Linked DNA regions of Homo sapiens: region 2 is linked to region 1. The links come from fine-mapping of genetic effects on gene expression. Tissue or cell type: whole blood. Region 1 holds a variant in brackets; the other region holds the start of a gene. All regions are shown on one strand. Distances are from middle to middle.

Region 1 (8,000 bases):
GAAGTTACCCTATATGGTCTAAAAAGGGGAGGCATGAATAATCCACCCCTTGTTTAGCATATCATCAAGAAATAAGCATAAAAATGGGCAACCAGCCGGGTGCGGTGGCTCACGCCTATAATCCCAGCACTTTGGGAGGCTGAGGCGGGCGGATCACCTGAGGTCGGGAGTTCGAGACCAGCCTGACCAACATGGAGAAACCCCGTCTCTACTAAAAATACAAAATTAGCCAGGCATGGTGGCCCATGCCTGTAATCCTAGCTACTCGGGAGGCTAGGGCAGGAGAATCGCTTGAACCCGGGAAGCAGAGGTTGTGGTGAGCCGAGATGGCGCCATTGCACTCCAGCCTGGGCAGCAAGAGCAAAACTCCACCTCAAAAAAAAAAAAAAAAAAAAAAAAAAAGGCAACCAGCAGCCCTCAGGGCTGCTCTGCCTATGGAGTAACCATTCTTTTATTCCTTTACTTTCTTAATAAACTTGCTTTCACTTTGCATTGCGGACTCGCCCTGAATTCTTTCTTGGGCAAGATCCAAGAACCCTCCCTCTTCTGGGGTCTGGATCACGACCCCTTTCCTGTAACACTGGCACAGAAGCTGAGAGCAGGCCTCTAGGTTCCAATCCAGCCCCAGGTTACCCTCTAGAGAAGCAACCACCTCCCTGGGCAGAAAGCCTTAGAACAGCGTGGGTCACACATGGCCCTGGGCGCTCTCCCACCTGGGTGGGGCAGAAGTTATCAGCATCCTGGAAGTAAAAGAGGCCTCCGTGGTCAGGGTCCCATCCGGAGTGGAAGGGCAACAATAGGAACTTGTCAATCACGTGGGCTCGAAGTTCGGGGTCGCCTTTCCGAATGCAATGACGGAGCAGAAACCAGCCGGCTTCCAGCGTGTGGCCTGGTGAGGGGTGGAGTACGGAAGGGCGGGGGGCGGGGGGTGGGGTTGAGGGAGGGAACAGAGGGAGCAAAAGCCCCTGGCACCTCTCTGCTCCCTCCCTAACAATGAGCGAGGCTCTGAGCTCCCTGGCCCTGGAAGCCTGCTCCTCTGCAGAAACCCCCAGCCTTGGGAAGCCCATCCTCGCTCCTCTGCCTCCTCAAGGCGCCCCCGCCAGGCACTCCCATATCTGAAGCCCAGAACACAAGGCTCAGCGCTCCCCTCCTCCTGGGTGGCCCCCAGCCCACCCCGCCCCTCACCTGGGTTCTGCTGTCTCCCCAGGCAGCCAGGAAGTTCCTTGCCACCCTCTGACACATTCTCCAGCACAGCTTGTCCATCCCTCTACCGGGAAGGAGCAGAAGGGAATGTTGCCTCCAGCCCTTTCACCCACCCAGCCACCCAACTAGAAAGACCCAGCTCCGGAAAGCCCTTCCTCCCTCCCTCTTACCCAAGCCCCTGGACCTGCTGGCTTGGGTGGGCCAGGCTCAGAGGGGCATTTAAGGAGGGGCTGATTCACTCCCTTGGGCCTAGCAAGTTGTTGTTTTTTTTTTTTTTTTTTTTTTTTAGACAGAGTCTTGCTCTGTCACCCAGGCTAAAGTGCAGTGGCCGCAATCTCGACTCACTACAATCTCCACCTCCTGGGTTCATGCGATTCTCCTGCCTCAGCCTCCCTAGAGGCTGGGATTACAGGCATGCACCACCATGCCCAGCTAATTTTTGTATTTTTAGTAGAGACGGGGTTTCACTATATTGGCCAGGCTGGTCTCCAACTCCTGACCTCAGGTGATCCGCCCGCCTCAGCCTCCCAAACTGCTGGGATTACAGGCACGAGCCACCGCGTCCAGCCCGGGCCTAGGAAGATGTAATCCTCACTTCTGGCCTGATCCTCTCCAGCAGGGGAGGGTGAAACATTGAATGGGGACAGACAGGGCGGGTTTCACGGCCCAGAGGCCTGGAAGGGACTTGGGTGGGGCAGGAGGGGTCTCCTTCTGTCAGGGCTTGCCTGGGGCTCCGCATCCTCCCTCCAGCCCTCAGGCCCTCCACCTTCCCCAGGTGGGGACATCCCCGAATCTCTGTCTCTCCAGGTGTGTCGAGCCCCAGGGTGCCCAGGGGAGTGGGGGAGTGGAAGGCCTCCCACCACCCCAGCTCCCCAGGCATCCCCCACCTGCACGTGCTGCAGAATCCTCCGGGCGCACCAGTCCCCCAGCTCTGCGTATTTGCCCGCCAGCTCCTCATCTGCCTCCCCGAGCTGCTCCACCAGGTTCAGTAGCATCATGGGCACCGCCATGGGCTCCGCAGCCGGGGCCCCCTGGAGCTGGGGCCGGCCCAGTCCCGACGCGTCCTCCTGCACCCAGTGGACGATCTGATCCATCATCTCCACCGCTTCCGTCTGGGGGTGCAGGAGGCAAGGGGAGGCCCAGGCTGAGGCTACATCCTGTGCCATCCCCCTGGACACGGCCCTGGGGTGGGAGAGCCAATTCCTCTCCTGAACCCAGAGACACCTTCATCCAGGGCCTACTTGGGGCCTGGCACCCAGCGTCCAGTAGGGGCCAGTCAGATCCGCCCCACTCTGCTCCCAGTCTGGGGGTGCAGCCCCTTCCAGGCTGTGGGGTCAGGGTCTGGCAGCACAGGGAGCCCAGGGAGGAGGGAAGGGCCTTTTCCCAGTTGGGGGCAGGGCGTGGATAGGGCCCTCTCCGTCTGCGCCCCTGTGGGGGTAGGGGAGCGTTCAGAGGTGAAGGGGACTTGGCCCACAGATGGGTCCATGGGAGGGGACTTGCGTAGTGAGTGGGAATGCATCAGGTGGCCATGGCAGGGTCGCAGGGTGGGGTCTTCAGGGGCACCCTCCTCTCACACACCTGGTACCGCACTTCCCCTGTGGCTCTCCACAGCTCGTTCATGGCCATGGTGTAGAAACACTCACTGAAGATGGTTCGCTGCACCTTGACCGGGCGGCCGTCCCGAGTCAGCACAAAGGCACACTTCTTGCCAGGAGGTGCCACCCGGGCATACCGCAGCAAGAACTCACCACCTGGAGGTTGGGGGGTTGGCATGCCAGGGGTAAGGCCAGGACGCCCCGCACACACCACCCTTGAGCCTCCCCAAGTCCTTCGCTGCTTCTAGATCCCTCTAGGAACTCCGCACATGTGCCCTGTTGAGTAAACATGGACGGAGTCACTGGGAGATGGGCAGGAAGGGGGCACCTACCTGCTTTTGCTGCGTCCAGAAGCTGAGCATGGCGGAAGCGCTCGAAAGTGCGGTACAGGCGACAATACATCCATACCTGCGGGGTACGGGAGGGAAAGTGGCTTAAGTGGCCGGCTGGGGTGAGGTGGGGAGACCTTTGAGGCGATGGGCCGTGTGCCTGAGCTTCCAGGCTGGGAACACCATACCTGCCTCCCCTGCAGCCACACATACTTGAGGTCATCATACACCCGCCCCTCGCGGCCAAGGCACGTGAAGAAGCCCCTGTGGGAAGGCAGGGTTAGCAAAGTCTGGAACGGGCCTTGCCAGCCCCTCCTGCCCCTCTGGGGCCAGCAAATCTGTGAGGTGCCTGAGAGTGAGAAGGGGCCTCAGGAAGGGCAAAAACCCTGCTGAGGACTCCAGAAGCACGCCGAGTACCCGTGCTCCTGGTCGTGGGAGTGCTCCATCCAGAAAGCCACCACGCGGTCCAGCTCCTGCCCCACGCGCTCCTTCCAGGCCTGCAGAGTCTCTCGCTCTTTCTCCATGTCCTAGGGGAAATGGGGCTTGAAGGCGCAGCCCCCACATGGGACCTAGGCCCCCCCAGCCTCGGGAACCAGCCCTCAGGGATCTCCCCACCTCTGCACGGGGCTTCAGACGTCACCATCCCCGGGACCCTCCAAGACAGCACTCCCCCCAAGCACCCCACCACTGGCCTGTCGCGCTGGGAGACCCTTGCTCATCCCTCCTGCTCCTCTAGGAAGCCAGACAGAGTTGGTCGCGGTCCCGTGACTGTCACTCAGCTGACACAGCCGCGCCCGGCTCACCCTCCCCCTCCTCTTCAGGGTTCCGCTGGGCCTGGGGCGGGGCTTTGAGCCCGACCCCCGCACTTGTTCCTGCCGCGACCCTCCACTCGAATGGGCCAGTCCCTCCAGGGCCCCTGCTGGGAGCTCTGGTCTCAAGATCCTGCTTGGTGGGAAAAGCTGGGATGGCCGGAGGGTCTGGGATGAGGGGGAACGGGGCTGCCACCCACCCCGCCCTACACCAGGGGCCCCGGCAGGGCGGCTGAGGGCCTTGGCCCTACCAAGCCTGTGGGGCAGGGGTGCAGCAGGACAGGGAACAGCTAGTGGGCCTGAATGCAGAGGTCCCTCTGACCTGTCACCACACAGGGTAGACAGGAGGCAAGTTCTGTTTTTGTTGTTGTTGTTGTTGTTTGTTTCTTTGTTTTTTGAGACAGTGTCCTGTCGCCCAGGCAGCTCACTGCAGCCTTGACCTGCCAGGCTCAAGCGATCCTCCCACCTCAGCCTCCTGAGTAGGTGGGACCACAGGTGTGGGCCACCATGCCTGGCTAATTTTTGTAT[T/A]TTTAGTGGAGACAGGGTTTTGCAATGTTGCCCAGGCTGGTCTCGAACTCCTAAGCTCAAGCGATCCTCCTGCGTCAGCCTCCCAAAGTGCTGGGATTACAGGCGTGAGCCACCGCACCCAGCCTAGCAAGTCCTCTCTTTTGAATCAGTTTGTCACCAACTACCTCAACAGTCAGTAATGGGCAGCCATTGGCGCTAATTTTTTTTTTTTTTTTCCCAAGATGGGGTCTTGCTCTGTCGCCCAGGCTGGAGTGCAGTGGCATGATCTTGGCTCACTATAACCTCCGCTTCCCGGGTTTAAGCAATTCTCCTGCCTCGGCCTCTGGAGTAGCTGGGATTACAGGTGCCTGCCACCATGCCTAGCTAATTTTTTTTTTTTTTTTTTTTTTTTTTTTAGTAGACGGTTTTTCACCATGTTGGCCAGGCTGGTCTCAAATTCTTGACCTCGTGATCCACCTGCCTCGGCCTCCCAAAGTGTTGGTATTACAGGTGTGAGCCACCGCGCTCGGCCTTGGCACTGACTTCTTTACACAAGTGACACAGCTCTAAGGCCAGACAGTAACTGCAGGTAACAGCCCACACCCCCCTTCTCTGGGCCTGTTTTCCAGCTGCCCAGATCTGTCTGTAGCTCTATGACTGACCCGATGATGCTACAAGGCAGCTGGGCTGAGGTGGTTCCTACCTTCCAGGCCAACAGTGCACAAAATGGGTTCCAGCCTCTGGGCGTGGGTACTGCACTGCTGGTCTTTGATGCCACAGTGGCTGTCTCAGTCCCTGCTGCAGGCTGACCCACCCAACCCCAAACAGTTCCCCTTTGGGGTGCTTGGTAATGAGGCTGATGCCCTGGCAGCTGGGGAGGCATCCTCTGTGTGCTCCCACCCACCCTCGGCCTCGGCTCATGCTCAGGGGATGAGCTTTGTGCCCAGCCGGGCTGTATCTACCTGCCCTGCTCACAGGCCTGTCATGTTCACATTCATGTCCAGCCTCCCTCCTGCCTCCCCAGACTGAGTGGTGCCCTCAGACGGAAACGCGGTATTTTCAGATAAACACCAGAGGCATGACTGATGTGGCCCTTGCCTTGTGGAGTGTGATGCAGCCGCGGTGAGACAAGTGAGCTGAAGGAATGCGGAGGGTGGGTAGCCCCACAGGTGCCAGCTACAGAAGTGGGGTAGGAAGAAGCCTTGTACCACCCCCACCAGGCGAAGCGCCCACAACGCCATTTGCCAAAGGTATGGCAAATCCGCAAGGCCCCTCGGTTCTGGGGCCAGCCCCATGTGGCCCCTGGCCTCCACCAGCCCCAGCCATGACTCCTACCGCTCTGCTCTGAAGGACACTTTCCCACCCCTCTCCTTGGGCCTCTGCGAGGCTAGGCTCCAAGGCAGGTCACAGTTGGTGCGGTGGGTAAGACAGAGCCATGGCTCCTGGTGTCAAGCCCTGGCCAGTCTGCTTCCCCCCACCCCCACATGACACAGCAGACCCCACAGGACAGAGGCTTCCCAGAAGAGGTCGCATTCGACAGGGCCTTGCACACACACCCATGCCACAGGTGGAGACACGGAGGCTTTGGTTACTCCAGGAGCTTCTGGTAGCGGAGTGCCTGGGTGCTCTGAGAGGAAGGCTGGGCAGTAGAGGTGTGTAGGGGAAACAAAGGCAGGCGGCAGGGGCTTGGAGGGGGCGGGGAATGCAGGTGCGCCAGGAGCACCAGGCCCCAGAAGCAGGGTGTCACTCCCCTCAGACCCGCCTAGGCCTGTGCTGCTCCGGCCACCTTGCCCCGGAGCTTTCTGGGCCTCCTGGTACAAATTCAGCCCACGGGATCCCAGCTGTCCTACCGACCCAGCTGCTAGGTGGTCAGTCTGGATCACAAGCTCTTGCTTCTTCCCCTTGGGGGCATGGCTCACATTTAAGAGGAAGCCAGAGGAAGGGATCCACCTCTGCAGTACCCGTGGTGTACTTGACTCAGCCCACCTCCCCCCAACCCACCCAAGGAGGCTGCCGCTGGTGACCTGCCAGGCCCTTGCCCCATCCTATCCTCTAGTGCAGGAGGGGAGGGAGGGAGATCTGGGCCCCAGACACAGGAAGTCAGCAGCAGCTGCCCAAGGGGCTCTTTGGCCCTTGCCCTGCAAGGCAGCTACCAAGCAACCTGCTGGACCCTGGTCCGACTTGGTCCAAAGACCGGAGGCCACAGCAGAGGCCTCACTCTGGGGCCTTCTACGCTTTCACCAGAGCTCAGGTCTCCCTCCAGGGGGCTCCCGTGAGCCTCGGGCAGGTCTCAGCCTTCCCGCTCAGGCTTCCTGAGAGGATGCCGGGACACAGTGAGACACCTAGTGGTTATTTCAAAAAAAGTCTTTTAATTGTTCAAAATAGCACAAAACGACATCGCACTATGGTAATATTGAGTCACAGGGGTTACTCTACAATAGTGAACGGTGTACTCTCCTCAGAAACAAATCAATAGGCGCGCGAGAGAAGGGATGGGGTAAAACAACAGGACCAGGTGAGTGGGCTCCAAGGTGACTAAACGTGACATTTTCCACAGCGAAATATACTATAATACAACAAACCAGAGGCCCTGGAGGACACAGGCTGCTGCGTCTCCAGGCAGAGGTCGGTAGGGGAGGGCTGGAAAGATTGGCTGCTCGGTTCAAATCCTTCTGACTTGCTGGCAAGCCTTGCTCCTCGACAGAAGTTTGGGGTGGGGGGCAGAAAACTCCAAGCAGATCCCCCAGCCTCGGAGCCTGGCCTGAGTTCCATGCTGCACAGCTGCTGCTGGTGGCCTGCTCCATTGCCCTAGCCTCCCTTGTGGGTGACACTACACAGTCACCCTCCCAAGCTGCCTCCAAGGACGCCTGGTTCCCCTCCATTCTCCACCCTTTCCATGACGATTTGGGGGAGGTGGAGCAGTGGCTGCGGAAACCAGCAGCCCTGTTTGGGAGGCGGTGCCGGTGGTGCTCAGGGAGGGGGCATGGGGAGAGCTGGAAATCCAGGACAAGGAGGCCCCAGCCCTCCCTCAAGCTCCCCTAGGCTCGACCCTATAGATGCGGAGTGATCGCCCATGAGGAATGAGCTGTCCTTCCTTTGTTCCAGCGGCCTGAGGACAGGCAAAAGGGCAGAGGGCAGGGGCCAGCAACAGGAAGTTGGGCTGGGTGGCAAACAGCAGGCCCCTCGTGGCAGATTTCACACCTCTCCTGCCCTGGCTGGCCCCAGCTTTTCCTCCAGAAAGATCCCTGCCAAGAATTAGCCAAGAAGAAAAAAGTAAAAAAACAAAAACAAAACAAAACAAAACAAAAAAAAGAGAAAAGAAAAAAGATTACACATTCTGTACACAGCTAACAACAACAAAAAAGGGACAAAACCCCACACGCTAAAATTACAATGAAAGTGTGAACTTCACCAATTGCAACCTAAAAAACACAACAAATGCAGCAGTTGGCAGTGCGGCCTGCAGGGAGGTCTGCACAGGCGCTGCCCAGGCCGCCGCGGGGCTCCTTGCCCCTTTTTTCTTTTTCCTTCTTTTCTTTTTTAAAATGGGAAAGAAG
Region 2 (8,000 bases), 28 kb after region 1:
CAGAGTGGAGAAGGTGCTGCTCATGGTGACGGTGCCTCTATAAACAGCCCCACCACTGGAGAAGCCTTAGCTTACTGAGCTAATTCCTGCTACTGCAGCTGCCTGGGCTGGCGCGGGGCACCACCAACCACCAAGCGCCCCCGCCCGGGGGCTGCTGAGAAAGGCCCTGCTCCCTGGAGGCAACAGGTGCTGAGAGACCTGGAACGAAAAACGGTCACAGACAACCCACCAGCCTTTCAAAGTCAACGTGGTAGGTGGCGATAATCTCCGAGATGTGGAGAAACCAGCACTTTCTGCCTTGGGGGGTGGGGAAGGAAGCGGCACCCAAGAGCCCAGCTCCAGCCTTCCCAACTCCCTAAACCAACTTTCTCCCTCCAGGCAGCTCCAGCTTCCCACCCCCAGAGCATCGAGGCACTGGAGCTCAGCCAAAGAACAGCAGCCTCTCACCGCTCAGGACACAAAGCCCACTCAGCGAGGGTTTGTCTGCAGGGCCACCACCGAGGCCAGGGGATCGCTAGAGCCCCCAGGAGAGAACGGCCGCGGAGCAAGGGGTTAGTGCTGGGAGCCGTGCCTGCCACTCAGGACTAGGGCATCCCAAGGCCCTCCCCCAGCCGCCTGCAGGGGGCTTTTCCCTCACCCAGACTCTTCCAGCTCTTGCCTGGGACCGAACTCACCCTGACCCTGCCTTCTGGGCAAGGCCAGGGTCCTGTGGGCCAACGGGCAGTCAGTAGGCAACTTGGGAACTGACCCTTGTGCTAGGGGCACAAAACGGGCCAAGTAGCCACCAAGAAAAAGGATGCCACAAAGCTGTCGTGGACAGCAGCAGGCTTTCTGCCCTAGAGACTAAGCAAGGCTACTAGGCAGAGGCAACAACAAACGGCCCCCACGAAGGCCGTGGTGCATCAGCCATACCTGAAGAGAGAGGTTCCTCCCCTTCCCAACTAACGGGCTTTGGGTTTTGCAGGGAGGCAGAAGAGCGGGTGGGGTAACCCCCTGGATCCGCAGAAGCGGGGAGACACACGACTACGCAGGCCGCTGAGGGGTAACTGGAATTCAGCTTGTAAACCAGAAGGCACCAGATTAGGAGAAGGGGCGACTTGGAAAGAAATGCTGCAGAAGTAAACGTGGAAAGGGAGAGGCGGCCCTGCCGCCGGCCCGTCCTAGGGGTCCCCAAGGCTCCGGCATTACCCGGGTCGGCGGATGTTAAACTCTGCGTCCTAAGAGCGCTTCCCTTCCCTCCCTTTTTCGAGAGACAGAGAACGAATCTGTAATCTAGAAATGGTCATTTCTCCAGAATGGGCACTCGAGATGAGGGAGAGCTGAGCAGGCGCAGGAGAAGGGAGGGAGGGAGGGAGGGGAGCTCTGCCTGCGCCAAGGGGACACATCCGCCCGCCCCAGCCCCAGCCCCAGCCCGCTGGGTAACGGTGTGGGTCTGAAGTCACCACCGCTGGCGACAGCCCCTCTCCCTCACCAGTCGGACTAGGGGCTTTCTTTTAACTAACGAAAACCAATCCTCAAACACGGGAGAGACAAGGGAACGGGGAGAAGATCAGAGAAAAGCACTGAAGCCCGGCACAGCAAAGGGGAGGGGCAAGCCGATCAGTGGGGAGGGAGGGGGAGGAGGGGAGAAGGGGGAGGGGGACGGGGAGAGGGGAGAAGGACGGGTAAGGGAGGAGGGGAGAGAGAGAGGGAAGGGTAGAGGGTGAGGGAGGAGATGGAGGGAGGGAGGAGAGGGAGGGAGCAGATGGAGGGAGGGAGGAAAGAGGAGGGAGAGGGAGGAGATGGAGGGAGGGAAAGAGCCGAAGACCCAGCGGGCTTTGCACTCACCCGTGTTGTACACGTGCAGTTCGTCCACTATTCCCTCGTTGCCGCCGCCAAACACCACGATGAGCTCCTTGATGGCCACGGCGCGGTGGCCGTGGCGGGGCCGTGGCACCGGACCCGACCAGCCCACCACTCGCTTCCAGCGGGGCTGCAGAAGCACCGCTGGCAAGTTGGCGGGCGACACGGCCGAAGCCATAGTTCCGGGAAAGGGTGCGGTGGGGAGAAGTCAACAAGCGGGAAGGGAGCCCCTCAATTCCTTTCACACACCCCCTTTCGTCTAAGGCAGCTCTCACGGAGAAGCGGTTTCTCACACAGCGGTAGACGACTCCATGGAGGCCGCCATCTTAACTGCCCTCCTTCCCTTTGGCTCTTCCCTTTCTTCTCGCTCACCCCGTCTCCGCAAGAGCCGCCCGAAACTGTCGAGCGCCTAGGCTCAAGAAGCTGGAGGCCGCTGAGTCCCGTCGCCCCGACTACTTGTCCGGGCGCTCCCGCTTACAAGCTCGGGCGGGAGGCCCTGGGAGCCGCCATCTTGAGCCGCCTCTCTCTCCTCCCTTCCTCAGTCGTAGCCCTCCCCCGCCGGAAATGGCGGAGCCCCGGCCCGGTTCCCACACCCCCAAGTCCCCAGCACTGGCCGGCTTCCGGGGCGGGTGGAAAGGAGCCACAAGCGCCGCGGTCGTCGCAGCCCCGCCGGCGCTCAGACCACAATTGTGGGAGCCGCCATCTTGAGACCGTCCCGCTTCCCCGCCCAGCGCCTTAGTGCAGCCGCCGCTCCCGAAACAGCCTCGACACACCTAACGAATGGAGGCGGGCCGGAGGCCGGTGGAACCAGCTCGAGCTCTCGAGGGCCGTTTGGGGGCTCGCGCCGTACGGCTTGTGAAGTCTCGCGCCTCTCCCCTTAGTCCGCCTCTGCTGCTCAGGCTGCGCCTGCCGCCGTGGGAGCCGCCATCTTGAGACTAGCTCCCCGTTCCCCCCTATTCTCTTCCTCCTAGGTCAGTTCTTCCACTGCACACCAAACTCAAGGCGGTGTCCGATCCTCACTTCCCGCCTTATGACTCCTTCCCACAGGAGCCGCTTCAAAGAGCTAGAGTTAGGCCCCGAAGCGGCAACTGTACGGCAGAAGAAGCGGTAACGGCAGGGCGCTCATGCCTCCTCCCTGGGAGCCGCCATCTTGTGTGAAGAAGTAACAACTAAACATGGCGGCAGCGGCGCCGGCGGTCGGGCGAGGAGGCGGAGCCGGGTGACGTCACCGCTTCCCCCCACTCGCCCTCGCACCGCTTCGCCCCTGGGCCCAAGCCTCTTAAAGGACCCCTGCGCTGCCTCGCGGCGGGGGTGGGGGTCGGCGCTGCCGCGCGCTGGGCTAAAGCTCGAGTCGCGCTCAGATCAGGTGCAGGCGCAGGCGCGCCCCGCCCCACGGCCCCCCCACCGGGCGAGCCTCCACGCCTCCGCCCTGGGAGCCGCCATCTTGCCACTTCCCCTCGCCCGGCCGTCCGCGGGCGTCAATAGCGACTTTCAGCACAAAACAAAGATGGCGGCGGCGGCATCTCGGAAATGCCCGGATGAGACTGCTAACCCCTCCGACGCGCTCGGCCCCGCCCCCTTGGGAACGGTCTCTCGGGTTGATAAGGGACGCACGCCCGAAGAACTGCCTTTAACCAGCACTGGGGACAGCGGCACGCAGGTGGCCGGGGTTGGCGAACAGCCACTGCAGCCGCGCCTGCGGCCGGGAAGCGAGCATTTTCGCGCCCTGCACACCCAGCAGCCGCAGGAGGCGGCCCGAGGCGCGCCGCGGGGGAGCCGGGGGCGGGGCGACAGTGGGAGGCGACGCAGCCGAGCGCCGGCGCCCGGGGGTGGAGCCTCCGCCCGCTCCCAGGCTCCCAGGCTGCGGGGCCCGCCCTCGGGCGCCACCGCCTCCGCCCGCGCCGCAGCAAAATGAGCCGGGCCGCGCGCCCCAGACCGCCGCGCGCTCGGCCGCCCCCACTGCCGAGAGGCCCGCAGTCGGGCCGGTGGCGCACGAGCCGGGCGGGCGACCGCGGGAGGCGTCCGCGTCATCTCGCGTCACCTCGCCCCGCCCGCTTCCCAGGCTTCGAGTCCCGCCCTGCGCGCAGGCGCACCGGCGCTGCTCGGATCCTCCCTTTTCGGAGATTTGAATTTCCCCCAGCGAGGCGAGTGAGGCGAAATACCCGTATGGTGATAGCTGGCCTTTTCGCGCCAATACTGTAAGTGCTCACCGCAGCCCTGGGAGGTGGGTCCCGGCCTCGCCCCCACGTTTCGCCTCCTCTAGGAGGCCGCCCGGGCGCGGCGGCGGCGGCGGCGGCGGCGGCATCCGCCCTGCCACGCGCAGGCCGCAGCGCGGGGACCCAAGCTGCTGCCCGGGAGCGGCAGTCGCCAGTAGAAATGGACAGACCGGTCCTGTCAGAGCCTGTGGCTTTTGTTGTAAACGTCTAGAAGTTCAGTTAAATTACAAGATCTACCAGATCTACCGGCGGGCAGAATTATTACTTTGAAGTTACTGAAGTTATGCGTCCTGCTGGAAGACCTTGTAATTTAATGCGTTAGTAAAGAAGCACACGTCACCCTCTCACACATTTTCAACAATATTTTTAAAGTCGCCTCTCAACATATTACATGTATTTTGTAATCGTCTGTGTTTTAGTTCATGCAGTTGGAAGTATCCATTTGAGAAGGGACAAAGAGAAGAATTCTTGCCTGTCTGTGCCACCACCTGCTCTTTGTGACCTTGGCTAGTTACCTCACATATGTCCCCAAGTCCCCCACCCATGGTAAATAAGAAAACTAAGGCCTGATGCGTTGGCTCATGCCTGTAATCCCAACACTTTGGAAGGCTGAGGTGGGAGGATTGCTTGAGCCTAGCCGGGGCAACATAGCGAGACCCGGAGGCATGGTGGCACACGCCTGTGGTCCCAGGTACTTGGAACGCTGAGGTGGGAGGATGGCTTGAGCCAGGGAGTTCAGGGCTGCAGTGAGCTGAGATCGCGCCACTGCTCCAGCCTGGGCGACAGAGCAAGACCCTGTCTCAAAAACACACACACACACACACACACACACAAAAGCAGCTGCTGGTTTCCAAGGGCCTTGCCTGGAATCAGTCCAGAAGCTAAATTAATGTTAATTGATATTCCTTTATCCACAGAAAGACAGCAAGAAAGGTCATGCGGAGCGGGGGACATAACTAACCATAAATGCTAAAGGCCTGGAGGTGACAGTGCCTGCTGTTTAAACGCGTGCGGGAGAGTCTGGGGCCTTTAGCCAGGAGATTGTCAGGCTTCCCAGGGCTTCCCTGAAAGACCCCAGACCCAGGGGCCAGTGCTGTTGAGGTGTTGGCTTTCCCATGCCAGGCGCTGGGGGAAGCTGTGACGAGATTTGAGTGTCACATAATAAGGATCATGGCAATTCAAAGGTACAGGGAAGCTAGGCTATAAGGTAACCAGCTCGGTTTTCCTGGGGGTCTTGGACAGGTGCTTTGATTACATGGTCACTGTCAGCCCGTACCCCCGGTCAGATAGACTGAACCCCTGCAGCCGGAAAGAGGAGTTGCTTTCCATGCCCTTCCTGGAGTTCTTCCTCGATCAAGTTGACAGTGTTTGACTCTTGTTCCAGCTCTCCGCCCTGCTTGCTGGCAGGCAGGAGGGTCAGACTAGCATGGGTGCCATGGGGCCCTAGGTGGGTGCAGGGAAGGACCTGTAGACGCCATGCGGGGCCTCAGCTGGTGTCTCAGCTGGAGTCAGGAGCTGAACGGGGAAGTGCCTGAGAGGAAATGACAGCTGAGTCAAGGGCAATGGCCAGGCGAAGTGGGCAAAGGGCTTCCAGGACAGAGCTGGGCCTGAGGAGCTCACAGGGCTGGATGGGGATGGCACTTTAAGTCTGGCCAAGACTTTGGGACATGATCCAGGACATGGAATGGGAAGCTGGTCATGGAAGGGTGGAAAGCCAGGGCAGACATGATCCCATCCAGGGCTGCTCAAAGATGCTGGGGCTGCGGTGTGCACACCCCTGGACCCAGAGGCTTTTTTGACTGGGAGGACGGGGCAGGAGGAGTTCGGGTGCCCCATGCTGAGATGGCAGGCTTGTGTGAAGCAAGGACGTATGGAGTGATAGTGAGGACTGTGGTTCCTGTGTGGCAACACCATGCTTCAGAGGGCAATGGGGCACCCACATGCCAAGCCTGGTGGCCCTCCTCAGCAACGGAACTCCAAGGCAAGAAGGCTGAGAATGAGGCCCAGGAGGATGCGGTGGGCCCCAGGACCTGCTTGAGAAGTGAAATAGCAAACAGGACTGGTAAAAGGGAGCAGAGGTGCTGGCTTTGTTCTTTAATATAATTGAATTGAAATTGAGCAGGGCTTCACTGGGCATCTGAGGAAGAGCAAGGAATCAGACCCTGTCCCACCCATTTGGGGCCTAAATTGCAGTAGGGCAGATGGACATTGCACCTCAAAAATAAACAGTGCTTGTCACATGAATCATTTGCAAATATTTTCTCCTATATTGTCTCTTCATTGTTGATTGCTTCTGTGCTGTGCAAAAGCTTTTTACTTTAATATACTCCCATTTGTCTGTTTTTGTTTTTGTTGCCTGTGATTTTGGGGTCTTAGCCATAAAATCTTTCCTGGAGCATTTCCCCATTTTCTTCTAGTAGTTTTATTTTATTTATTTTATTATTTGTATTTATTTATTTATTTATTTTTTGAGACACAGTCTCACTCTGAAACCCAGGCTGGAGTGCAGTGGCACAATCTTGGCTCACTGCAACCTTAGCCTCCTGGGATCAAGCGATTCTCCTGCCACACCCTCACAAGTAGCTGGGATTACAGGCGCATGCCACCACCCTGGCTAATTTTTATACTTTTAGTAGAGATGGGGTTTCACCATGTTGGACAGGCTGGGCTGGAACTCCTGACCTCAGGTGATCTGCCCGCCTCAGCCTCCCAGTGTGCTGGGATTACAGGTGTGAGCCACCACACCCAGCCTTTTTTTTTTTTTTTTTTTTTTTTTTTTTTTAAAGACAGAGTCTTGCTCTGTCGCCCCAGGCTGGAGTGCAGTGGTGTGATCTTGGCTCACTGCAACCTCCTCCTCTTGGGTTCAAGCATTTCTCCTGCCCCAGCCCCCTGAGTAACTGGGATTACAGATGTGCGCCACCACGCCCGGCTACTTTTTGTATTTTTAGTAGAGACGGGGTTGCACTGTGTTGGCCAGGCTGGTCTAGAACTCCTGACCTTAAGTGATCTGCCCGCCTCAACCTCCCAGTGTGCTGGGATTACAGGTGTGAGCCACCGCGCTGGCCTCTTCTAGTAGCTTTATAGTTTCAGGTCTTACTTTTAAGTCTTTAATCCATGTTGAGTTGATTACTGTGTGTGGTGAGAGATAGGGGCCTAGTTTTCATTCTTCTTCACATACTTATCCAATTTTCCCAGTGCCATTTATTGAAGAGACCATCCTTTCCCCAATGTAGGTTCTTCGTGCCTTTGTACTACTTATAATAGCTAAGATATGGAAGCAATCTAAGTGTCCACCAGTGGATTGATATGTAAAGAAAATGTGGTATAGATACATGATGGAATATTATTGAGCCATTTAAAAATAAACTGTTGGCGGGCGCGGTGTTTCAAGCCTGTAATCCCAGTACTTTGGGAGGCCAAGACGGCCAGATCACCTGAGATCAGGAGTTCGAGACCAGCCTGGCCAACATGGCGAAACCCCATCTCTACCAAAAATACAAGAATTAGCCAGGTGTGGTGGCAGGCGCCTATAATCCCAGCTACTTGGGAGGCTGAGGCAGGAGAATTGCTTGAACCTGGGAGACGCAGGCTGTGGTGAGCCGAGATTGTGCCACTGCACTCCAGCCTGGGTGACAGAGCGAGACCCTGTCTCAAAAAAAACCAAAACCAACTATAAAAAATAAAAAAAATAAAAAACTATTGGCTGGGTGCAGTAACTCACGCCTGTAATCCCAGCACTTTGGGAGGCCAAGGTGAGAGGGTCGCTTGAGCCTAGGAGTTTGAGACCAGTCTGGGCAACATAGCAAGACCCTGTCTTTCAAAAAAAATTTAAAAATTTGCCAGGCATGGTAACATGCCTGTGGTCCCATTTACCTGGGAGGCTGAAGTGAGAGGACCACTTGAGCCTGGGAGGTGGAGGCTGCAGTGAGCTGCAATCACACC

The links. PIP is the estimated chance that this variant, and not a neighbour inherited with it, causes the effect.
Region 2: TMEM187 starts here. The variant in region 1 is fine-mapped to the expression of TMEM187 in whole blood (TOPMed, PIP above 0.99). The same link has a PIP of 0.9 or more in blood mononuclear cells.

Annotation. Positions count from the first base shown.
Region 1 is chrX:153,940,765-153,948,764 of GRCh38, forward strand. It overlaps RENBP (renin binding protein), which reads right to left and starts at 3,879. Exons shown (of 11, transcript NM_002910.6): 1 at 3,820-3,879; 2 at 3,545-3,654; 3 at 3,316-3,391; 4 at 3,131-3,206; 5 at 2,782-2,954; 6 at 2,091-2,315; 7 at 1,186-1,267; 8 at 714-889. The coding sequence starts at 3,846. It overlaps HCFC1 (host cell factor C1), which reads right to left. Exons shown (of 26, transcript NM_005334.3): 26 at 6,793-8,000. RefSeq lists enhancers at 3,722-3,851, 4,031-4,794, 6,961-7,500 and a silencer at 4,062-4,121. The variant T/A (reference allele first, on the strand shown) is at 4,465.
Region 2 is chrX:153,968,821-153,976,820 of GRCh38, forward strand. It overlaps TMEM187 (transmembrane protein 187), which reads left to right and starts at 3,934. Exons shown (of 2, transcript NM_003492.3): 1 at 3,934-4,040. HCFC1 (host cell factor C1) reads right to left here and starts at 2,998. Exons shown (of 26, transcript NM_005334.3): 1 at 1,828-2,998. The coding sequence starts at 2,020. HCFC1-AS1 (HCFC1 antisense RNA 1) reads left to right here. Exons shown (of 3, transcript NR_046608.3): 1 at 1-250; 2 at 379-551; 3 at 965-1,271. RefSeq lists silencers at 404-582, 3,079-3,318, 3,549-3,998, 4,109-4,218 and enhancers at 1,369-1,608, 1,598-2,447, 2,089-2,848.